Homo sapiens: one gene and its partners. The protein of the gene in region 5 interacts with the protein of the main gene of each other region in a pairwise test. Each region holds a gene or a part of one and is shown on either strand. Other genes may lie near its edges. The genes, in order: ZFP64, ARHGEF5, EIF4EBP1, HNRNPC, LMO2, IKZF3 and NOTCH2NLA.

Region 1 (3,500 bases), on a different chromosome or scaffold from region 5:
ATAAAAGAAAAAGACAAAAAAAGAGACAGTTTCTTTTCTCTCCCCTTATTCCTCTCTTTACTAATCATTACACACACACATATGAACTCGTAGGGTCATCTCCTCAAAATGAGAATATGTGCGTTCAAATTTTAATTAATTTTGGCAGAATCATTTTCAAAATGGCTGTAACAGTTCACATTCCCACTTAGCTAAGTTTGCTCACATCCTCTCCAGAGCTGGATTTTATTATGTTAAAGATTTTTCTGCCAAAGTCATGTGTACAAATGGCACCTTATTTTTTAAAATCTGGACTTGTATTCCCATAACAGCCAGTGACGTTTGGAGTGGTATCATTCGTCTGACCTATGTGGATCCCCATCTCCTAGCACAGAGCAGGTGTTGAGGGCATATGCGCTAAAGAAATGCTACTTACCCGTGTGAATTTTTAAATGCCGCTCCATGTCCTTCATGCCATAAGCAGTCTTGAATTGGCAACCTAAAAAAAAAAAGGAAAGATTAATTACAAAGGAAAACTTAGTAACTTTTAGCATGGAGAAAACTGGTAGAAACATCCTTAACCAAGTGACAAGAGTTAACACCACGGTAATGGGAAAAAGAGATCTCATGTGCCTTCATATGTGATGACCGGGAAAAACACACCGTCATTTTGTGGTTCCTGCCAAAACTGCATAACCTGAATCTGATCATAAGGAAACATCAAATAAACCCAAACTGAGGCCCTTTTGACAAAAATCACTGGCCTATACTTTTCAAAAATGTCAAGCTTATGAAAGATAAATGCTTAACTGTTCTTGATTAGAGGAAATGAAAGACATAAAATCTAAATGCAATTAGTGATCACTGGTTGGAGCCTGGATCAGAGGGGAAAAATGTCATTCTTTTGATATTGGTAGAAAGGACATCGGTGGGACACTTGATGACGAAATCTGACTAAGGTCAGTAGGTTAGATAATAGTTCCTATAAATGTTAATTTTCTGATCTTGATGATTGTCCTGTGGTTATTTAAAAGAATATTCTGGTTTTTAGGAAATACACACTGAAGTATTTAGGAATAAAGGGGCATCACATTGTCAGCAACTTTCAAATGGTTTGGGGAAAACTATACTTGTATATATATTTGTATATATACAAAGAATGACAAAGCAAATATAATAAAATGGTAACATTTGGGGAATCTAGATGAAGGGCATACAGGGATTTTTTTGGTACAATTTTTGCAACTTTTCTGTACATCTGAAATTATTTCTGAATAAATTAAAACCAAAGTAAGGAAAGAAAATTCTTACTGGATATCTTCCTAAGCTATAGCATAGGAAAAAAATTTATAGCAACCTGAAATTTTCACGAGTTCCACTTCAAAGGCCTATGGCTAGAAAAGTCTTAGAACCCAGAGGCAGAATGACCACAGACAGTGGGAGATAGGTTGTATGTGCTGATGTAAATGCCAGGGGGCTCTGATTTTTATGCCAGGTAGTTTGGAACACATCCATGAGCAGTTGTCAGGAACTCATGAGGAGGAGCCCTGGAGCCTGGTTAAATATCACACCCTCTACACAAGTAGGACATAATGCTGCCTTTACCTGGATAGCAACAGTTAAGCCTTTTCTGAGCAGGTGGTGTTGTGGGCTTTTTGGTGCGTGACTTGGCAGGGAGAGAGATGACAGTGGCTGTCTGGTTTTCATTACTTTCCGTGGGCAGGTAAGTTTGATAGCCATGTTCAAAAACAAATTCTGGAGCTGAAACTAAAAGATATGGTGATTATTAATTTTCTTAATATAAATGCCCGCTAGCTATGGTGTCTGCCTACTTTCCTTTGTAGAGAGAATGCATGTACTAGTTTGCTTTCCCAGCCTCCCTTGCGGCTTCACAGTGATCATGTGACCCAGTTCTAGCTAATGAGACACTAGAGAGCATCCGCTGGGAGACTTCTGCAAAAGACTTTCCTCCCTGATTTAAAATAGCATGGGGGGGCAGGGTGGGCAGGGCAGATGGTAAAAGAAGCAGTTGAGAAAAGCTCATCTTGCTGCCCTGGCTGCCCTACTTCCTGTCTTTGTATATGCTGGAGTGATGATGTGATGCCTGGATCTGTGGCAGCCATTCTGTAACCATAAGGGTAAACATGGAAATCAGATGCTGAGTCAGAGCTCTGAAGCCACCCAAATCTATACTTTTTTCTTTTTTTTTTTTCTGAGATAGGGTTTCATTTTGTCACCCAGGCTGGAGTGCAGTGGCATGATCACAGCTCACTGCAGCCTTGACCTTCCAGGCTGGAGCAATCCTCCCACCTTAGCCTCACAAGCAGCTGGGACTATAGGCATGCACCACCATGCCCGGCTAATTTTTGTATTTTTTGTAAAGACTGGGGTCTCGCCATGCTGCGCGGGCTGGTCTCAAACTCCTGAGCTCAAGTGATCTACCTGTCTCTGCCTCCCACATTGTTAACTACCATGCCTGCCCTAGACTTCTTAAATAAACAAGAAATGTCCCTATAATTTATGTCCCTATAATTTATGCCAGGTAAGATTTCTGTTAACTGCAGCCAAATGCATTAAGTGCTTTCATAAGCTATATGACAAAATCCTAATGAAACACCAAAAAGGAACGATAGAAGGGATTTGGGGCAAAATTAGTCTAATTAACATTCTTCTCAGCATAAGTATTTCCCCCCCTCAAAAAATTCCTTGTACTCTTACTGAGGTTCTGAAGCAAAAAGAAAAAAAAAATAGCAAAACACAGACTAAATATAAAATATAATTGTAGGCTGGGCGCTGTGGCTCACAGCTGTAATCCTAGCAGTTTGGGAGGCTGAGGCAGGTGGATCACCTGCGGTCAGGAGTTCGAGACTAGCCTGGTCAACATGGTGAAACCCCATCTCTACTAAAAATACAAAAATTAGCTGGGCATGGTGGCGGGCACCTGAAATCTCAGCTACTCTGGAGGCTGAGGCAAGAGAATTGCTTGAACCTGGGAGGCGGGGGTTGCAGTGAGCCAAGATCGTGCTGTTACACTCCAGCCTGGGCGACAAGAGCAAAACTCTGTCTCAAAAAAAATAAAAAATAAATAAAAATAAGTAAATAATAAATAAAATTGTAAAAGATAAGATAGGCAGTCTCAAATTTTTTTGTTGTAAAAAATTAAGTGACTACTTTGTTAACTACATTTATAGTCTGGGACTTAGGCATGTTTCCTCCCTCCCTTCCTCCCTCCCTTCTTCTCTCCCTCCCTTCCTCCCTCCCTCCCTCTTCCCTTCCCCTCCCTCCTTCTCCTCTTCCCCTTCCCTCCCTCCCTTCTTTCCTTCCTCTCCTCCTCTTTCTTTTTCTGGTTCTTTCTTAGAATGTACTTTGTCATATGAAGATTGGGTTTCAAATAAGAAGTAAATATGACCAATGGAGGCTTGTTCATTGGATGAACCTGTCAGGCTAAGAGGCCCTAATGATGATTTTGAGAGCCGCTGTAATATTCTGTTTCCCAAACTTCAGTCACTCAGACACCACCT
Region 2 (3,500 bases), on a different chromosome or scaffold from region 5:
TTATTTTCTAAATATCTTCTCTGTGCTTAAAAATTTGCAGCCACAACAGGGCTCTCAAGTCTGAACTTTGCAAAGTCTAAAAATGTATTCTCTCTCTGACTTGGTAAAAGCATTGTCTGTCCATAAGTCCTCCTGGCCCAAATTTTACTCCTCCCTGCCTCTGAAAGGCAGAGAGTACGGCACTAATATTTATCAAACTATACATCAAATATTACTGCTAAATTAGATATGCATTATTTCATTTAAACCATTCAGCAACCCTGAAAGGTAGGCATTATTATCCTCAATTTGCAAGTGAGGAAACTGAGATTTAGTGATGTTATAAGGCTGCCTAAGCTAGCAAATGGTGAAGTCATGTTTCAAACCTAGGTCTGGCTTACTTAAAATGAAAAGTCAACATTTTTTGAGAAATTACTATGTACCAGGCATTCATGTTTCTTGATCCTTGCAGTAACTGTTTGTATCTCAGTTTTACAAATGTCATTTGGCCAAAGGTAAATTGGAAATATTAAAGTGGGCTCTGGGGCTGGGCTCAGTGGCTCATGCCTGTAATTCCAGCACTTTGGGAGGCCGAGGCGGGAGTATTGCTTCAGCCCAGGAGCTCGAGACAACTGGGCAACATAGTGAGACACCATCTTTTCAAAAAATTAAAAAATTAGCTAGGCATAGTGGCACATACCTGTAGTCCTAGCTACTTGGGAGGCTGAGGCGGGAGGATTGCTCGAGCCCAGGAGGTTGAGGCTGCAGTGAACAATGATTGTACCACTGTACTCCAGCCTGAGTGACAGAGCAAGACCCTGTCTCTAATAAATTAATAATTTTAAAAAAAAGTGGTTTTCATATCCAGGTCATTTCTTCCAGAACCTAATTTCTTAAACATTATTCTATTCCATTGTTCCATACTGTCTTTCTGGGAAGAAAGGTTTTACCCCATATTTCAGACAAATTAATAAGAGGCGCTCTCCATGTAAAACTTACTAATGGTAATAGCTTAGAATCAGACAAACAGCCTCTAGTTCAGTCTTGCTGTTGGGAGTAACAATCAAGCAGGGACTGATGATCACTCTAAGGCCCCTGTTAGATTGATGGACCACAGGACAGCTGCAAAGGGCCCTCTTCAAGGGACCCAACAAAGAGCCCCGGAATGTGCCTTGGCTAAAGAGGAAAACTGTAGTGTAGCCTGAAACCCTGGTTGAACAGGGAAGCTTTCCTCTACCCTGAAACAGCAGTGATGATGGGATTAACTCCACATTCCTCCACACAAATTCAGAGGCAATGGCCACCATGTATAGCCCAGACCAACATCAGGTAGGAGCAAGTGGCCTATGGCATGAGGAGGTGAGGATGAAAGGGGAGGTGGTGAAATCCAGAAAACAATTCAACTTCTTCAGAATGGACATGACCCACAGCTGTGGCATGTACACGCGCCTGTGTGGTGGGGACAGCCGACTCTTGGTGGCAGTGGTGAGCAGGAGAGAAGGATGCTAGCAAACAAGACCTTGTCATCTTTTCTGTAGCCCCCTCCCCACCGTGGCCTGCCCAGTACCTCTTGCAGCTTTTGGTCTTCATGGGTCATGGAGAGCAGCACGGTGCTGTTGCGCACCACGGGGATTTCCTGCCAGAGGGAGCCGCTGGAGGCCATGGAGAGCCGCTGCAGGTACGACTCGGAGGAGACCAGGGCCTTCCGAGGCTGCCGCGGAGAGCTAGGCCCGGGTGTCTCGGACAGGCTCTCCAGCCGCTGCTGGCTCTGGATCTCCTTATTCAGGACAACATCACTATACTCCTGGTAAAGCAGCTGGGCTGCAGGGCAAAGAAGCATGGGAAGGAAGAGAAGCAGGAAGAAGGGACGGTGAGCGGAGGCAGGGAAACAGATCTTCTGCAATGCCTTCTCGCTAGGGACATCCCCACCCCACTGCTGACATCCACAAGCCCCTCTCCAGTGCTGGGCAGAATGCCCACCTGGTTCTATAGTTCCACTTCAAGGTACTCACAGGAGTTGATGAGTTTGGAGCAGCGTCTTGAAAAGCCTCCCATCACCTCCTTTGGTTTTTTCTCCCTGTGGAGTAAAGAAGGGCTCTGGGGTACCTACTGGCCATTAGACACAGAGCACCCCAGGTGACTGTGGGGGACAAAGTCTCTAGCCTCTGGGATGTGTGCTGGGATGTCAAGACCAAATCCCCCGGAGAGGCACAGAGTTGCAACTTGACCCACTTGGGCTAACATGGAGCTTTTGTGGGGTTTAGTTCACAGCCATAGGGCTTGGGAAGATGGATGACTCGTAGGCTCGGCTGACCGAATGAGGTAGATAAAGACAATCTCCCTAAGCTGGCATCCCGGCATCTCTCTCTTCTCCTCCTTACACCAAGAAGAAACAGGAATGAGCCATTCGGGGTCTCAGAACCCTTATCAACTGAAATCCTCACTAGGGGACTCTCAGTATCCCAAGTGAAGAGAGTACAGTGTGGCTGTTAGGGGAGAGGGTGACTTACCGAAAAACAACAGTGTCTGAGGGTCCCGGATGTTTCTCCACGGCTGGACCTCTTGAATCTAAAAGTGGAAATGGGGAAGATAACTGAGATTTCAGAGGGATAGAGAGAGCCAAAGAAGATCTAGAGCAGGAGATGCAGGGGTCCAGAAGGGAAAATGGGCTTTATTGGGAAACTGGGAGGGAAGAAAGTGGCAAAGCAGAGAGCGTGAAAGAGATCAGTACCAGTGACGTCCCGAGCCACGGGTCAGGATGGGACTGGGACAAGTACAGAAGGCCTTTTCTACTCCCCAGGAGGAGAGCAAGCAGGGACTGTAACTGAAGAGTAGAAGGGAGTCCAAAATAACCTTGGGACATCCAAAGAAGGTGCTGGTTGAGGGAGAGACAGGGAGATAGAGGGGAAGAAGAAGGAAGAGCATCCCAAGGAGCTTGGAGGGCACTTCGGGGCTCTCTCTGTGTTGAGGTTAGGCACACATGTGAGCGAAGCCAGCAGAGAGAATGTTAGGAACCCTAGGGACAGAAGATGGGATGAGGTGGGAAGAGCTGGGAAAAGCTTGGTCTGATGTGTCACTGTGGTCCCGGTTCTTGCTCACCTGAAGAGCCCTCAGGCAAGATGGAAGGTCTGCGCAGGCCCTGCCGGCTCCAGCCCTTGTGCTTGTTGGCCCCCTCACTAGGAGCCACAGCCTGTCCACTGCTGTCCCCTGGTGGCCTCCCTGAGTCCCGCCTGTGGGGCCAGCTGGACGCCTTCTCCAGGTGCAGATGGCTGGGTTTTTCTGGCTGCCTTGCTTGGCCCACAGGTGACCTCCCTGGGCCACTGGCTCCTTGCTGAGGGGTTGTCCTTCTCAAAGGTTCTCTCGCAGGGGCCTCAGGGTGTTCTGAGACCCCTGCTTCATCCTTAGAGGTGGGTCCCTGGAGCTCCGGAGTCCAGGGAGTGGTAGGGGAAGAGGGGCATAGGAAGTTTGTCATGTTGCTGAAAGCCATGCCAGGGGACACTTCGCTCTTACTCCTGCTGGTG
Region 3 (3,166 bases), on a different chromosome or scaffold from region 5:
ACCTGTTCTTGTGCCAGTCTTCTCAGCTGTAAAGTGAGGATAACAGTTGTTCTACTTACCCACAGGATCAGAGTCAGAATCAAATAAGGACAGGCCCACGCTTTAGAAGCACTGTACAAGGCTGGGCACGGTGGCTTACACCTGTAATCCCAGCACTTTGGGAGGCCAAGGCGGGTGGATCACCTGAGGTCAAGAGTTCGAGACCAGCCTGGCCAACATGGTGAAACCCTGTCTCTACAAAAATACAAAAAAATACTAGCTGGGCATGGTGGCGGGCACCTGTAATCCCAGCTACTCGGGAGGCTGAGGCAGGAGAATTGCTTGAACCCAGGAGGTGGAGGTTGCAATCAGCTGAGATTGCGCCATTGCACTCCAGCCTGGGCCACAAGAGTGAAACTCCGTCTCAAAAAAAAAAAAAAAAAAAAAGCAGCAGCACTGTACAGATAGCAGCTGGTGTTAGTTACCAAACAGAGTTGAAAAAAGCTCAGACGGGGCCCAACTCTTGGCCCTAGGGCGAAGGTGGCTTTTATTTCCTCTCTTGGGGAAGGAGGGGGAGGGAGCTTTCCCAAGCACATCAACCTAAGGAAGGGGTGGTTGCGCCCCCAGCAGCGAGGGGCTGGAACTGCTGATCATTCGGAAGGAAGGGTTCGTTCTTGTCCACTTCCTGGCCCTTGGCTGCAGGGTGTGCTGGCAGGGGTCACTCCCCTTGGGGTGGCAGCTCCTGCATCAGTGGAGGCACAAGGAGGTATCTGCTGGTGTTCACGAAGAGGAGGGGGCAGGTGCCCTGAGTGAGGGAGAAAGGGCTGGGGTGTCCGACCCCACGCCAACGCCTGCCCAGTATGATCACTTTCATAAGGCCTGGCTGGTGGGACTCCTCCCAGGAAGGCCCTGAGGGGCCCCTTGGTAGTGCTCCACACGATGGCTGGTGCTTTAAATGTCCATCTCAAACTGTGACTCTTCACCTGGGGAGAGAGGGGACAGAGGGCCAGGTCAACAATGGGTGAATGCTTGGTATATGAGGCCATTCTTTCATTGCTATAAAGAAATACCTGAGGTTGGGTAATTTATAAAGAAAATAAGTTTTTTTTTGTTTTTTTGTTTTTTTTTTTTGAGATGGAGTCTCACTCTGTCTCCGAGGCTGGAGTGCAGTGGCCCAATTTCGGCTCACTGCAACCTCCGCCTCCTGGGTTCAAGCGATTCTCCTACCTAAGCCTCCCAAAAGAGTAGCTGGGATTATAGGCACCCACCACCACACCCAGCTAATTTTTGTATTTTTAGTAGACCCGGGGTTTTGCCATGTTGGCCAGGCTGGTCTCGAACTCCTGATCTCAGATGATCCACCCTCCTCAGCCTCCCAAAGTGCTGGGATTACAGGTGCGAGCCACCGTGCCCAGCCAAGAAAAGAGGTTTAACTGGCTCGCGGTTCTGCAGGCTGTACAAGCATGACGCCGGCCTCAGCTTGGCTTCTGGGGAGGCCTCAGGGGGCTTTTCGTCATGGTGGAAAGCAAAGCGGGAGCAGGCATGTCACATGGAGGAAGCAGGAGCAAGAGAGAGGGTGGAGTGGCGCTCCCACACTTTACAACAACCAGATCTCGAGAGAACTCATTCACTATCATGAGGACAGCACCAAGCTGTGAGGGATCTGTCCCCACGACCCAAACACCTCCCACCAGGCCCTACCTCCAACACTGGGGATTACAATTTAACATGAGATTTGGGCAGGGACAAATATCCAGACTATATCATTTCGTCTGACTCTTGTTGTTTTTGCTTTTTTCTTTAGAGACAGGGTCTCACTCTCTTGGCCAGGCTGGCGTGCAGTTACGCAATCATAGCTCACTGCAGCCTTGACCTCCTGGGCTCAAATGATCCTCTGGCCTCAGCCTCCCAAGTAGTTGGGATTACAGGCATGCACCACCATGCCTGGCTAATTTTAAAATTTTATGTAGAGATGGGGTCTTGCATTGTTGCCCAGGCTGGTATTGAACTTCTGGCCTCAAGTATTCATCCTGCCTCAGCCTCCCAGAGTGCTGGGATTTCAGGCATGAGCCACTGTGCCTGGCCACCAGCTGATGTTTTTAGGGGCCAGGGACAGCCCCTATTTTTTGAAAGTAGATAACTTGTTTAGTTTCACAGGCTCACAGCTGGAAGGAAATTAAGCTTGAGATGAATCATGCTGTGAGTCTTGTCTGATTCAGATGAAATTCTGGACTTTGAACTTTTGAGCTAGGACTGCAACGTGTTAAGTCTTTGGGGATATGGGGACCAAATTAATATATGTGTATATGAGAAGGACATGAGTTTGGGGGGTCCAGGGCTGGAATGCTATGGTTTGAAATTCATACAGAAACTTAATCCCCAATGTAACAGTATTAAGAGTTGGGGCCGTTAAGAGGTAATTGGGTCATGAAGGCTCTGTCCTCATGAATGGATTAGCCCATTCCTGGATTAATGGGTTACCACAGGAGTGGGCTAGTTATCACAAGAGTGTTATAAAAAGGCAGCTTGGTTCTCTCTCATGTGCCCCTCTTGCCCTGTGATGCCTTCCGCCATGTTATGATGCAGCAGGAGGCCCTCACCAGAAGCCCAGCAGATGCGGGCACCATGCCCTTGGCCTTCCCAGCCTCTAGAACTGTAAGAAATAAACCATTTTTCTTCATAAATTACCCAGTCTCAGGTATTCAGTTACAGCCATAAAAAAACAGACTAAGACACAGGCAACTATTGTCTGTCTTGTACTGTGAGGTTCCCAAGGTAATTATGAATCATGTCCTGCAGGCCCTGGGGAGATTAATTCTGCTGCTGTTAGCAGAGCCAGCCAAGCTGAGGTCCCTGCTGCTTCCTGTCTGGGCCTGGGGTACGGCCTTCCGGGTGAAGGGTCGGCGGGTTCCAATCTGATTATAGTTGCCCGGAAGTGCTTATGCTGCATCATCTTGCAGCAGAGAACTCCAACACTCTGCCAAGCCAGTCAGGATGCCACAAAGAGTGCATTCACTTACACCACTACCACAGTGGCTGCTCTAATTACTCGGGAGGTGGGGACAGCAGGAAGGACCCAGCTACCAAATGTCAAATCGGCAGAGACAACTGGCTGCATTGTTTCTACCTGCCTTCATGAAGATCCACTAGGGGACCAACAGCCCAACAGGAGGCATCCCGGATGTAT
Region 4 (3,500 bases), on a different chromosome or scaffold from region 5:
TTTTCAAATAGTACTCAGATACTTAATAAAACATCTTATACTTGAATGTTCCTTGAATACCTCCAAGATGTTTAAAATATTCTTTTTCCCACCCTCAAACTATAATCTGCTCCCTTCATTCATTCCCCAATATCTATCCCTATCCCAGAAGCTAGAAACCAGCAATCATGCCAAATCTGTGTTCTTGTCCACCTTATCACATCCATCCTGAGATGCTCCTAATTTTACCTCCTAATCTCTAATCTCATAGCATTACCTTTGTCCAAGCCAGGTCGTTATTCTTTCTTGGATTTTAATATCTCCTTTATTAATCTCCTACTTCCAATCTCATTTCCTCTACACCATTTCCATACTGTTATTAGAAAGACATTCCTAAAAATTAAAATCTTCCAGGAGTTTTTGAGACCAGCCTGGGAAACAAAATGAGACCTGTCTCCACCAAAAAAAAAAAAAAACAATAAAAAATAGTCAGGTGGGCCGGGCGCGGTGGCTCACGCCTGTAATCCCAGCACTTTGGGAGGCCGAGGCGGGCGGATCACGAGGTCAGGAGATCGAGACCATCCCGGCTAAAACGGTGAAACCCCGTCTCTACTAAACATACAAAAAAATTAGCCGGGCGTAGTGGCGGGCGCCTGTAGTCCCAGCTACTTGGGAGGCTGAGGCAGGAGAATGGCGTGAACCTGGGAGGCAGAGCTTGCAGTGAGCCGAGATCGTGCCACTGCACTCCAGCCTGGGCAACAGAACAAGACTCCATCTCAAAAAAAAAAAAAAAAAATTAGCCGGGCATAGTAGCAGGTGCCTGTAATCCCAGGTACTCGGGAGGCTGAGACAGAGAACTGCTTGAAACCAGGAGGCAGAGGTTGTGGTGAGCCAAGATCACACCACTGCACTCCAGTCTAGGTGACAGAGCGAGACTCCGTCTTATTTAAAAAAAAAAAAAAAAAAAAATCCCTTTATGTGATTAAGGTAGAAGGAATAAATTTATAAATTTAAAGTTATAAATAAAAATAATAAAAAAAGGATTCCCTGACCTCTCAGGGTTAGTTAGGTAACCATTTCTGCATGCTTTCTTTTTTTAAAAAGAGATGGGGTCTCGCTGGGTGCGGCAGCTCACACCTGTGATCCCAAAACTTCAGGAGGCTGAGGCGGGTGGATCACCTGAGGTCAGGAACTTGAGACCATCCTGGCCAACATGGCATCTCTACTGAACCCTGTCTCTACTAAAAATAGAAAAATTTAAGGCCAGGTGCAGTGGCTCATGCCTGTAATTCCAGCACTTTGGGAGGCCGAGGCGGGCAGACCATGAGATCAGGAGTTTGAGACCAGCCTGGCCAACATGGTGAAACCTCGTCACTACTAAAAATACAGAAATTAGCCGTGCATGGTGGTCCGTGCCTGTAGTCTCAGCTACTCGGGAGGCTGAGGCAGGAGAATCGCTTGAACCCGGGAGGTGGAGGTTGCAGTGACCCAAGATGGCACCACTGCACTCCAGCCTGGGAAACAGAGCGAGACTGTCTCAAAAAAAAAAAAAAAAAAAAAGATGGGGTCTCATTATGTTGCCCAGCCTGGAGTGCAGTGGATAATCACATCACACACTACAGTCTCTCAAATCCTGGGCCAAGGGACCCTCCTGCCTCAGCCTTCCAATTAGTTGTGACTACAGGCTTACAGGCAGGTACCAACGCCCCCAGCTTATTTTGGCATGCTTCTATAGGATATGTGTTTACCTCTCATCATATATGGACATTATTTCATTCATGTGTCTCCCTCACTAAGCTGCGAAGCCCTTAAACATAATAAACTATTTTTTATATCCCCAAACACAACATGTCCCATAAAAATAATAAATTTGTAGAATTAACAAGGAATAAATCAAACTGAACCTATAGTGAACAGCTTCCGTACACTGACAGCAGCAAAGAAGAAAAAATAGCTCTCATACAATAGAGAGCATCAATAAAACTTGCACTTATTTAAAAAATAAAGATTCCCATTCTTTTTCTAGATAACTTCCAGGAATCTTTTGCTTTTTCTCCCATTCTGTTTTGAGTGTACCTCTGGTGTTCACTTTAACTAGATTTCACTTTTCATCCGAGTATGGTATAAGGGGGCAAGTTTGTGATTTACCCTAGTACAACAGTACCGAATATGCCTTCAAAAAATTATTCCAGGTTAGGTGCAGTGGCTCATGCCTGTAATGTCAACACTTTGGGGGTGTCAAGGCAGGAGGATCGCTTGAGCCCAGGAGTTCAAGACCAGCCTAGACAACATAGCGAGACCCTGTCTCTACAAAAAATAGAAATATTTTAAAATAAAATCTAATTATCTCCCAGCTTGAAACCTATCAGAGCAACTCTAAAATGGTTATCAAAACATTTTGCTGCAGTGAGTAAAATACTACGGGTTGCTCAACTTCTCTTTGGCTATCCACATCTTTACTAATCTCTACACCATTCCTGTGAATAACACAGAATACACTCCTTCTTAACATCAGAACACATTAGAGTTCCTAATCTAGCATTAGAACTCTATGAATTCACATTAGAATTCCCAAAATCTAGCTGGGTCTTGAGTCACCACTGTAAAAGGGGTCAGCCTTAGACAGTTCCTAATTTGGATGTAGAGGTTAAACAGATTTCCCTGCTTTGTGAGGTCAAAAAGCCTACCTTTTTTCAAATTTTTAAAAGCCCTCCAGTGAGACAGCATTTTAATATTATGTTGTATCTCCTATGGTTTGACTCTTGTGAAATATTAATGAGATAAAAAGTCTAAATAGAATATAATCCAAAAATGTCACAAACCCAAGGAATATGTTAAATGACAGAAAATGTTTACTGATTTGTAACAATCTAAAAAAAGGGACTCCCCAATATGTTTTCTTGTTGCTAATCATTAAAACAAGCCACTTTCATTTTAAACTTCAGCTGCTCTTTCCAAGTATCCAAAATGTTCTAATCAGCCCAAGTTAATTAGCAACTCATATTATTCCATTAGTTTACAAATAACTGAGGTGGTCCCCCTTGGGAAACACCTCAAGATGCACACACAAAAGTTTCAAACACTTCCAGATGCTATGACCTATACACATCAGCTAAACTGTTAAACGGGTTTATTTCCTAGTCTTTGTAATGAATCCAAGTGGACCTCACACCTCTTACCATCACCCAGGAAGGGTGTGCATCTGTTCCGAAGGCCCCCCTGGCTCCAGGTCATCCTGGCTGCTGCTGCTCCAGGCTGGGCATCCATGTTGCTGCAGCTTGTGGTTTGTGAGGGGTAGTGTACAGGAAAAGCAGGATGGGATTTCAAGGGAAACAGGAGGAAGATGGCTTTCAGGGAAAATGCCATCACGATCATAAGTGTTAAGTAGTACCACACACATTTTATTGCAGCACAGTTTAAAAATTTAACAAATGAAAGATTAAAAATAAAAAAACAAAAATAAAAAAAATTAAAAATACAGACGTCCAGAGATGCTCTAAAACAGTTAAGTTAAAGATCAG
Region 5 (3,500 bases):
GGAACTTTGGCATCAGGGCGCAGGGATGGATTCTAACGGTTTCTTTGCTGGTTGAAGAGGCTGCTTCCTGCCGACTTCTTTTTTTTTTCTTCTTATTCTTCACTTACCAGCCCAGCTTGTGAATGTGAAGGAGTTGTCCCTTTTCCAAATGAACAGGACTGGTGTATCAGGTGGCCTTGCCATTGTATGCACCTGCCGGTCTGAGAAAGCAAGTGTTCTGTCTGTATCTGCAACTGTTTGTGTCTCACGCTTTGCAAATCTCTTATCCCTCTGAGTCTCAGAAATCCCCCATGAGTGAAAAAGGGCAGGTAGCCTGGTGCCCATTTGATAGGAGAGGAAATTAGGCCAAAGCCCTTTCAAATCTCAAACATGCCTAAACTAGAGAACTGGATGACCCTTGTTCCTTAGACTCGGGCATTCTTGCTCACAGGAATGTCTTTTGAAAATTTATTTTTCAAGAGGAAGAGCTTCATGAGGCAAAAGCCAACACGCAGACACCGTATTACCTAGCGGCATTTATTGGATTTGTCTCTTGAGTGATTCAAACAAAAGATTACGGTTATAAATAGATAGACCTAATTGTGGCAAACAATGCCTACCTTTTATTGAGCACTTATTATGTGCCAGGCATTTTAAATACTTGATCTTATTCAATCCTGATAAGAAACCTCCTGAGATCAGTAATATTATTCCAATTTTACAGAGGAGGAAAGTGAGAGAGAAATTTCAATAACTTTCCCAGGGTCATACAGCTGCATAAATGTAGGAGACGGAATTTAGACCTAGGTCTTCTGACTATGCCCTCACCTCATTCACTATGCCAGTGTTTCCCAAATTTCCTACGTTTGCATGTTAGGAATACATATTCTTAGGCCCACACCCAATCTCCCAGATCAAGGGAGAAACCTCAGAAGGCCTTTCCCTGGATACCTGATCTAAAAAATAGCCTCCTCCCCAGGCACTAACACACCGTTATTTAATTTTCATCATTATATTTGTCACTACTTGATATTTTCTTATTTGTGTATTTGCATATTGTCTTTCTTCTCCACTAAGGGATGAGTTCCATAAGTGCAGATACAAGATGTCCAACGTTTTAACTTCTAGAAACTGACCAAGGGGGATGGTACCTACGAAGTACTCAAAACATATTTATTAGATAAGTTAGTAGACACTGTCCAAAGTATTGTGTTAAGAAGAATTGTGAGTCTGGACCCAGGTTCTGGAGAGAAGATGAGAACACTGGTGTGTGTCCTGAGGTTTCAGGATGGGAAAGTGTTGGCACATAGGCCATGTATTTGCCATCCCAGAGAAAGAAACTCAGTCTCCCCAAAATTAAGAGGAAGATGACACAGAAAGTCAGTAGGAGAGCCAGGTAAAATGCAATCACTTCTTTCCAAGACCTTTATCTCTTACTTGGAAGTCAAAATGAACACATTTGTAATGGAGAAGAAATCCATGGTCAACAGTGAGGTGCTGATCAAAACTGCAATCAGATTGGATTAGGGAGAGATCAGAGTGGATGGACATCAGCATGGAAGGCTTTCTGGAGGAAGCAGAAAATCGAGTTGCCCCTTGATGAGCGATTATCTGGAAACTTCCTTTGTTGTCAGGCTTGTACTTTGAGCTATACATAGAGTGTTTTTTAGGCCCTTGCAACACCCTAATGAAGTAAGTATTGTAATCATAATTTTATGGGTGATGAAACTGAGTCACAGAAAGCCTACAGAACTTGCTCCAGCTCACAGGGCTACTAAGGACTGAGTAGGAATTAACAGCCGGTGATTTCAATAATGGTTTTCTTAACAGAGCAGGTGTGTCTGGTAGGAAACAGCCCAAGTAAGGGTCTGGGTATGGGGTCAGTTGGAGGAGCTGGAGGTGCAGTTCACAGGTAGTAATGAAGTCAGCTGGTTGCAGAATTGGACCATAACAATATTCCAGTGAAAGGAACCAGATCTGCTGTTCTCTCCCATTTAAAAGCCTTGGATGCCAAAACGCACCACACCTGACCCGGTGATCACAGGCAATTCAAAGGTGTATTACTTATGCAGGCATAGGCAGCGAGGGAAGCCACTGGTTGAGGGCCCCACTGAGAAGAGGACTCCCTGACTTCTGGGGAGGAGAAAGAGCCTGGTGCTGGGGACCTACGTAGATATAGGACAGGGGCCCACCTGTTGAATAATGCCGAGAGGAGGTAGTGGGGGAAGATTAATTTTGAGTGATCTGCTCCATTGGGGGTCAGGCTGGGGGTGGTCAATCAAAAAGAGTAAGGGTGAGTTTTCTTGCATATGATTACTAGGTGCTGCAGAGGTGAGTGGGGCTGAGTGGGTGGTGAGGGGTGGGGTGCCCTGATGGTTTCTGCCCCAGTGGGTGTTAACTATTTGGACAAATGACATTTTGCTGGGAGCAACTTTTTGCACTCAACTCAATTTCTTCAAAATTCACTCCCTAACATTTGGTTCACCATCCAAAGAGCTAATATACTTGTATATAGGCTGTACCAATTTTACATAGCCAGTGCAGTATGTAAGTCTACTTGTGGGCAGGAGGGCTCCTAAAACAAGGTCACCCCAGGCTACAGGGGACATCCAAGTCCTAGGGAGTTCAGAGTACCACATGTAGAATTTGGTTTCTGTTTGGTGGTACATCCATTGGGCTATTTGGATTACTTTGCCTTGCAATATTTATCCACGTCCAGCAGGATACACTATGCCCTCTGAGAGCATATACTCCTTCTGGGAAGCTGGCATATCATCTGGAGCTAGTCTCTTATCTGCCACCCTGGCAGTTAGGGGTTTTTGCCCTTCAGTGAAAGCTTCCAGTGCTGCTGTTTTTTGTGTTACGTGGGCTGATAGGACCTCGGATCTTTCTCTGAAGTATCTGCTAGTTTTCCTGGTGTGATCATATTGTAAGACCTTAGTCCCACTCTTCTGGCCCCAAGTCATGCTTATACCCAGGACAATGGGTAGGAAGACTGCCCATCACCTCTGACTGGGGACTGTGACCAGCAGGGTTAAATTGCAGAACAGTCAGAAAAATGTGAAGGGGGTTGTCAGACTTAGCAGTGTGCAGGTGAGTTTAGGTATTTGGGACGTCAGGAAGAAGTTATCTAGGAGTGGAACAGGTGAAGCAGGTTCCCTCTGGGGCTTCCAATCTCTTGTGTTCCTTTAATATCTGGGGTGGGCCATGACACTAGTTGTGCTGTGTGGGCCTAGGAAGATACAAGCATAGGCATGTATTTATACATTTGGATAGATGTATGATCTGGACTCATGAGCCGGGGACCAGACTGGATAACATCTGAGCCAACATAGGACAGGGCAAGACCTAGGAGCCTAGACCAGAAGTGTTTGGTGTTGGTGGTTTTGTGGTGCAAATAAGGGAGTGGCCTGCTCATGGGGGCAGATAGGAGGCCCAACATTGCATGAGGTCCAGCCACTGGGATGTGGCTTTATCTCTGTGTACATACAAGTTAGCCCGGAGATAGCCTTAGGCAGTAG
Region 6 (3,500 bases), on a different chromosome or scaffold from region 5:
TAGTTACCACCGATTATAAAAAGATCCCCAGCTACGCATGGTGGCACATGCCTCTAGTCCCAGCTACTCAAGAGGATGAGGTGGGAGGATCGCTTGAGCCCAGGAGTTTGAGACCAGCCTGCAATGTAGAGAGACCTCATCTCAAAAATTAAAAAAAAAAAAAAAGAGAGAGAGAGAGATCCCTAAACTTTGGAAAATAACAGTCTAGAAGGGGCTATAGGTGTATTAATCAACAAAATAAACAAGAAACTTAGTTGCATAATCCTTAGATAATTCAGAGTAGAAAAATAATAGTTTTGTTCTGTTTCATGAGTGACAGTATTGAAATGTTTTCCATTTCTTATTTTAAAAGTTTCCTTCATTGGCTGGGCATTGGTGGCTCACATCTGTAATCCTAGCACTTTGGGAGGCCAAGGCAGGAGAATCTTTTGTGCTCACGAGTTCAAGACCAGCCTGGGTAACATAGCAAGACTATGTCTCTATTAAAAAAAAGGAAAGAAAGAAAAGTTTCCTTTGTAAACCCACAATAACCTAATCTGCCAAAAATTTCATCTCTAAGAACACTACTAAGTACAATTTGTGACATATTGCCAATTCCACTGTTATAAAAAATCACTCAGTAAGCTGATTTTAAGTACTGACAATAAGTAAAGAGTAATGCACTTTGTTTCATATCCATTACCAAGTACCTAGTTTTTTGTTTGTTTGTTTGTTTTGAGATGGGGTCTCACACTGTCACCCAGGCTGGAGTGCAGTGGCGCGATCTTGGCTCACTGCAACCTCCACCTCCCAGGTTCAACCAGTTCTCCTGTCTCAGCCTCCCGAGTAGCTGGGACTACAGGCGCCTGTAACCATCAAGTACCCAGTTTTTAAATATCTCCTGGATTGGACACATATCTAACATAATATTTTCATATGGTATTGGTATTTAATATAATACGGTAATTCCATATTATTTTCATTTACTGTATACCACTTTGGACTTACATTTTTTGTTGTTGTTGTTGAGATGGGTTCTCACTCTGTTGCCCAAGCTGGAGTGCAGTGGCGTCATTACAGCCCACTGAAGCCTCAAACTCCCAGGTCAAGCCATCCTCCCACCTCAGCCTCCCAAGTAGCTGGGACAAGTGCACACCACCACACCAGGCCAATTTACTTTTATTTTATTATTATTTTTTATGAAACAGGGCCTCACCATGTTGCCCAGGCTGGTCTCAAATTCCTGGCCTCAAGAAATCCTCCCACCTTGGCCTCCCAAAGTGCTGGGATTACAGGTGTGAGCCACTGTGCCCAGCCCTTAAATTTTTTAAGTAACTTTTTAATTAAAAAAAAAACTTTTAATTTTGGATGCAAAAACCAGATTTCAATTAGACTGAAAAAATAACCTCATTCAGAATCACTAGGGATAAAAGTATTTTGATGAGTTATATAGTAATATTAATTAATAAAGTTATACACAGATTACTTTTCAAACAATCTATATATATTATAAATAAATTATAATTATTGTTTCATTATTGCATCTTTTTTTTAGTGATCCAAAAGGCCTTGGTGTCATCCTTATGATTTTTTTTTTTTTTGAGACAGGGTCTTGCTCTGTTGCCCAGGCTGTGGCATGCTCATGTCAGTGCAGTGGCATGCTCATGGCTCACGGTAGCCTCGACCTCCCAGGCTCAAGCCATCTTCCTACCTCAGCCTTCCAAGTAGCTGTTACTACAGGCATGTGCTACCACACCTGGCTAATTTTTGTAGTTTTTGTAGAGTCAGGGTTTTACCATGTTGCCCAGGCTGGTCTTGAAGTCCCAGGCTCAAGCAATCTGCCCGCCTCAGCCTCCCAAAGTGCTAGGATTACAGGCGTGAGCCACCACTCCTGGCCTCATCCTTATAATTTCTAATTATCATAAATATACCAGTTAATATGGAGCTAAATTTAATAAAGGCTAAATAGCAGAGTACATTCTATGGCCTTGTGATGTGTAGGGTCTCTTTTCAAAATAATTAATGAATCCTTAGGACAAAAGACATTTATTGAGCACCTACTATAGGCAAGTTTCTGTGTTAATCACTCAGTTCTTCTCATACATGGTCTGGAACTATAGCTTGACATATGAGCCAATTATCATTGGACATCTATCTAGGCCAGGTGCAGTGGCTCACTCCTGTAATCCCAGCACTTGGGAAGGTTGAGGCGGAAGGATCACTTGTGGCCAAGAATTCAAGACCAACCTGACCAACATAGTGAGACCCCCATTTCTACAAAAAATGAAAGATAATAAATCAGCAGGTCATGGCGGTTTGTACAATAAATTACCAGGTTATGGTGGTGGATGCCTGTAGTCCTAGCTACTCAGAAGGTTGAGGCAGGAGGATCGTCTGAGCCTAGGAGTTTGTGGTAGCCTGGGCAACAGAGCAAGGACTATCTCTTTAAAAATAATAATAAAAAAAAAAAACTGGATGTCTGATAAAAGATCTACCAATAATCAATAATCTTTTAGTCCTAAATAAGTGTAAGTATATACATTTATATATGAATGAAAAGTTTATAACAATGTATTTTTAAAGTATCACTTGAAAGCGTATGCTATTTTTATGGCATCATCTATATCTTACTGACTGAGAAAACAAATTTCTGCTCATATTCAATGGATATTTTAATGGACTAATTGCGATCCTGAAATCTGCTTATGTAAATTTAACAGTTAAAATTTGGCTTTACACAAAAAAGAATGAAATCATATCCTTTGCAACAACATGGATGCAGCTGGAGGCCATTATTCTTAGTGAATTAACACAGAAACAGAAAACCAAATACCGCATGTTCTCACTTATGACGGGGAGCTAAACACTGGGTACACATGGACTGTTATGAATTAATGTGACCCCCAAATTAGACACTGATGACCCCAAAATGGGGAAGGGTGGGAGGAGGGCAAGGGTTGAAAAACTACCTATAGGACACTATGCTCATTATTTGGGTGACAGGATCAATAGAAGCCCAATCCTCAGCATCACATAATATACTTATGTAAGAAACCTGCACATGTACCCCCTAAATCTAATTTTGTTAAAATTGGCTTTAAGTGACAGTCTAGCAAAAAATATCCAATAACATTTTTGTTTTCCAAGCTTTCTTTTTCAATTATACAGTTTAAGTGCTTAAAAAATTACTGAGCTTTATCAAAGAATTACTAGCCCCAATCTCCTACTTTAAAAATTTATTTAAATAAAATGCATCACAATAAACATAATAAAAAGTACTTTTTCAGCACTATTTTAATTGAATGCAACAAATTCTGAGGGCCTTCTATGAACCAGAAACTGTCCTTCGCATTCAGTGTACAAAAACAAGACACAGTCTCTGTTCTCCAGAAGCTTAAAGACCAGAGGGGGAATAAACACCTACATCAATAAATAATTTCAACACAATGTGGTAGAAGTATACACAGAAAGGAGAGGCCCTTAGCTGAGGTGAAGGAACATGAGAGACTGGGTAGGGGTGA
Region 7 (3,500 bases), on a different chromosome or scaffold from region 5:
TTTGTTCTGCTCAAGAAGCCCTAGATTCCTCCTTTATTTTCCTTTCCTTATTTCATTTGCTGCAGCAGCCCAGAAACCCCAAAAGCAGGACCACCAGAAATGAGTGACCTTTATATCTCTCCACACTAACACATCTGAGGGAAACTGCCGACACCAAATATGTGTTCATGAGCTAATGAAGCAGAAATCCTCAAAGGAAGCACCATTTGCAACGGCTGAGGACAGAATTCTTTAGTGGACACCAAAAAGGCTGTGGAACTCCTATGCATTCTAACATCTCAGGTAACATTCTAATGGAGGAATAAGGAGGCTTACAACAAAGTCATACAACACAAACAGAAGTCCGAAAATGCTGGATTTCGCAAATTTCTTTTAAGACAAAACAAACAACTTTACTAACCTTATACCATAGCAGCTTTCTTCTCTGTACTAAGTGAGGCCAGCAAGTAGGAGGCATTTCCAAGGGGGAAAAATGACCACAGGATCTAGCCAAAGCAACCTGTCTCTAATACTCTCAAAAAACAAACAAACAAAAACAAACACTTTGATTTCCCAGATTCACTCTGCAGTGATTCTAAAACTTTCCTAATGTAAGAATCACCTGGCTATTTCTTGAACACACAAATTCCCAGATGACATTCCAGATGCACTGAATCAGAATCTCCATGAGAACACCTGAGCTATTCTTATCATAAGAGAGGTTAGGGAAACACTGCTTGATAAATGTTATTCTCCCACCAGTGCCCACCTGTGCAGGGAGGTATGAAACAAGTAGGGCTAAGATGCTTTACCTGAGCAATCACCCCAGACATGCTCCTCACTGGGTTTGACTCCTTTTATGGAGAGCTGGGTGTCAGCTCAGTAAAGTCTACAGACAAGCATCTCTTTGGGTCCCTATCACCTGCACAGGTCTCAGGACTCTGAGACAAATTTCTGAGTAGATGTCAATGAGGACAAGTCATGAGGAGATGGATTACAGCTGAATATAAGAAGATCTTTCTAAGAATTAGAGCTGGCCAAAGATGGAATAAACTGCTGTGGAGAGCTGTCTACCACAAGAGATGTTCAAGAAGAGAGAAAATATGGTACCTCTTGACTAGAATGTTGTAAACATCAGATCCAGCATGGGATGGACAGAAAGACTAGATGAATTTTAAAGTTCCCGCCAATGCATAAGTCAACAAAGAGGAAAATTTCAGCCACTCCTTAATTAATTAAAAGAGATAGCAAAAAAAGTCTGTGGGTGGGGTCAGCTTTCAACTGATCCTATCTCTTCAAAGGAAAAAAGAACATAGAAACACACTCCAACTCACCATCAGCCTCTCCTATAGAATGTTCTAAAGGTGGGAAAGCAGGAGTCACAGATGCTGTGACTAAGACCTGCCGCTCAGTTGACTCTGAATTTGGGGCACATGCCAGACAAGTTCTGTAGTACAGAGAAGAAATGTGTGTAGCACAGACCTGGCCCTCAAGGATCAAAATCATGTGGCAGAGACAACTCAACACCATGTGATTCTCTCAAATATTTATTCATCATATTTCACCTTTAGTTTTTGTCAGTAGGGTGTTCAGGGGACTCTCTTGGTTCAAAAAAAAAAAAGCAAATATACTTTACTAAATGTACATATTCTCTCAATCCAGTACAAGTTTGCAATATCCAACTCAATGAAAAAAATCTCAAAAAAAATTATCAAAATAAATATAAACTTAGTTAACTCTAATTTTAAAAATAGTATTCCAAAAATGACTAGTCCCCAAAATGATGAAATTACAATAAGGTGTGGCTATTCTGGACAAAATAACAGAAATTGCTGGCCTAGTAATACAGTAATACAGGAAGCAGTGGAAGCAAACTTGAATGAGAGGCAGGGGGTGGATGGCAGTGCCTTTGAAGTGAGATTCCAAAGTCAAAGTGACCTTTATAAATTGCAGAAGTGATCAGAAAAAGAAAGAAAGAAACCCCACACACAAAGAAATTCAAAATTACAAGTTTAAATGAAACATCTGGGGAAGGGAAAAATTTGGTTTTTCCCCAAATGTAAGGTAAGCATGACTCCTGCAAATACTATTTTTAAAATGTCTAGGAGTACCACAGTTGTCCAAAATAAGAAAGTGGCTAAAAATAATTGTTCGACTGAACAAGTATTTATTGTGTGCCTATTAGATACCAAGGCATCATGCCAGGTACAGGGGTAGGGTATGGGCATTAGAATAAACACATAAATGAAAATACACGATTCCTTCCTCATGTACGCATTAACAATAAGCACTTGAGGATGTTATAAGAGTTTTTGTGCACATAAGCGCATTTGTACACGAGATGGAAGCAATGTGGACAGTGAATGAGGCACTGGACACCAGAAGAAAGGAATTCTAGTCTCAACTCTAATTGGCTCTGTGACCATGAACAATGAACATCAGAAAATGGAGGACCAAAACAGTGGCTCTCCTACAAGGTCACCAAACCAATTAATAACAGACCTGGAGAAGAATTCTGGTCTTCTGGCTCCTAGTTCAGTGATCTGTCCAAAATACTACACATATGGTAGACTGACAAAGAAAGAAAAGAAGACCTTTTGGTTTCAAGTCATTTGCAGAGAAAGGGGGGGAAACAAAAACAGGAAAATCAGGAAAGGGTGGAAGGAAAATTAATAGTTCAAATTTAGGCATTCGAACTGAGACATCAAGAAAGGAAGCATGTAACTATGGACTGTGAACACAATATAAAGAAAATGATGTAAAATTTCTTATATCCTTATTCAAATCACGCCTTGCAGTTTTTTACTCTAAAATCATTGCAGACGTATATAGATAAAGGGTCAAAAAACAACATGTATGAATGACATTTAAGGAAAAAGAGATAACAGAAGAAAAGGGAAAAGGAGAGGTAGAGAATTTATTATATCATCTAAATATATGAAGCCCTTCTAAAGGGTCAATGCAGACATACTGCACCCAGATAAACAGAAGAAATGACATTATATTCTATATCTCTTACGTTAGCAATTTTAAAATTCTTGAGTCAGAAGTGTTAAACACTGGAATGACTAAGGTTACATTTGTTATGGAAATTTCTTAAATTTAGAAAGACCTCATACACACACCTGAAGGTAAAAAAAAAATGTACTTAATCAGTGGGTTGCAACCAAGTTACTTGTCAGAATCACCTGTAAACCTTGAAAAAATATGGATTCTCAAACTTACCTTATCAGAATCCCTGGGTGCTGAGTCCAAGATCCACCCCAACAGATTTTGATGTAGCCAGGACACAGAGTTTTTTTCTACCATAATGGGAGAGGTAGGGAGGAGGATCACTAGGAATGGCAACACAGAGTGGGAACTAGATCAATGCAAATTTTGTGGGCAAAATAGAATTTCTGTGGGTGTGATATTTTTAAAATGTATTGTAAGGCTGCTCTGAACCATCCAAGCATATCCCACTGAATTTAAACATTCTCTAAAGGTCCTGAAGTCAGCAACTACAATCCAGGTGAACCAAA

The links.
Region 1: the proteins of LMO2 (region 5) and ZFP64 interact in binary tests that used the Homo sapiens proteins (3 or more experiments, as listed by UniProt).
Region 2: the proteins of LMO2 (region 5) and ARHGEF5 interact in binary tests that used the Homo sapiens proteins (3 or more experiments, as listed by UniProt).
Region 3: the proteins of LMO2 (region 5) and EIF4EBP1 interact in binary tests that used the Homo sapiens proteins (3 or more experiments, as listed by UniProt).
Region 4: the proteins of LMO2 (region 5) and HNRNPC interact in binary tests that used the Homo sapiens proteins (3 or more experiments, as listed by UniProt).
Region 6: the proteins of LMO2 (region 5) and IKZF3 interact in binary tests that used the Homo sapiens proteins (3 or more experiments, as listed by UniProt).
Region 7: the proteins of LMO2 (region 5) and NOTCH2NLA interact in binary tests that used the Homo sapiens proteins (3 or more experiments, as listed by UniProt).

The regions. Positions count from the first base shown.
Region 1 is NC_000020.11:52,164,280-52,167,779, forward strand, and holds part of ZFP64 (zinc finger protein 64), read right to left. Parts: intron 1,747-3,500; coding exon 1,585-1,746; intron 479-1,584; coding exon 416-478; intron 1-415. UniProt on the Homo sapiens protein: May be involved in the regulation of mesenchymal cell differentiation through transactivation of NOTCH1 target genes.
Region 2 is NC_000007.14:144,365,402-144,368,901, reverse strand, and holds part of ARHGEF5 (rho guanine nucleotide exchange factor 5), read right to left. Parts: coding exon 3,079-3,500; intron 2,548-3,078; coding exon 2,490-2,547; intron 2,057-2,489; coding exon 1,992-2,056; intron 1,801-1,991; coding exon 1,547-1,800; intron 1-1,546. UniProt on the Homo sapiens protein: Guanine nucleotide exchange factor which activates Rho GTPases. Strongly activates RHOA. Also strongly activates RHOB, weakly activates RHOC and RHOG and shows no effect on RHOD, RHOV, RHOQ or RAC1.
Region 3 is NC_000008.11:38,057,700-38,060,865, reverse strand, and holds the end of EIF4EBP1 (eukaryotic translation initiation factor 4E-binding protein 1), read right to left. Parts: intron 963-3,166; coding exon 931-962; 3' UTR 501-930; downstream 1-500. UniProt on the Homo sapiens protein: Repressor of translation initiation that regulates EIF4E activity by preventing its assembly into the eIF4F complex: hypophosphorylated form competes with EIF4G1/EIF4G3 and strongly binds to EIF4E, leading to repress translation.
Region 4 is NC_000014.9:21,259,443-21,262,942, forward strand, and holds part of HNRNPC (heterogeneous nuclear ribonucleoproteins C1/C2), read right to left. Parts: exon of another isoform or gene 3,152-3,500; intron 1-3,151. UniProt on the Homo sapiens protein: Binds pre-mRNA and nucleates the assembly of 40S hnRNP particles. Interacts with poly-U tracts in the 3'-UTR or 5'-UTR of mRNA and modulates the stability and the level of translation of bound mRNA molecules. Single HNRNPC tetramers bind 230-240 nucleotides.
Region 5 is NC_000011.10:33,882,077-33,885,576, forward strand, and holds part of LMO2 (rhombotin-2), read right to left. Parts: intron 201-3,500; exon of another isoform or gene 108-200; intron 1-107. UniProt on the Homo sapiens protein: Acts with TAL1/SCL to regulate red blood cell development. Also acts with LDB1 to maintain erythroid precursors in an immature state.
Region 6 is NC_000017.11:39,857,813-39,861,312, forward strand, and holds part of IKZF3 (zinc finger protein Aiolos), read right to left. Parts: intron 1-3,500. UniProt on the Homo sapiens protein: Transcription factor that plays an important role in the regulation of lymphocyte differentiation. Plays an essential role in regulation of B-cell differentiation, proliferation and maturation to an effector state.
Region 7 is NC_000001.11:146,222,522-146,226,021, forward strand, and holds part of NOTCH2NLA (notch homolog 2 N-terminal-like protein A), read right to left. Parts: intron 1-3,500.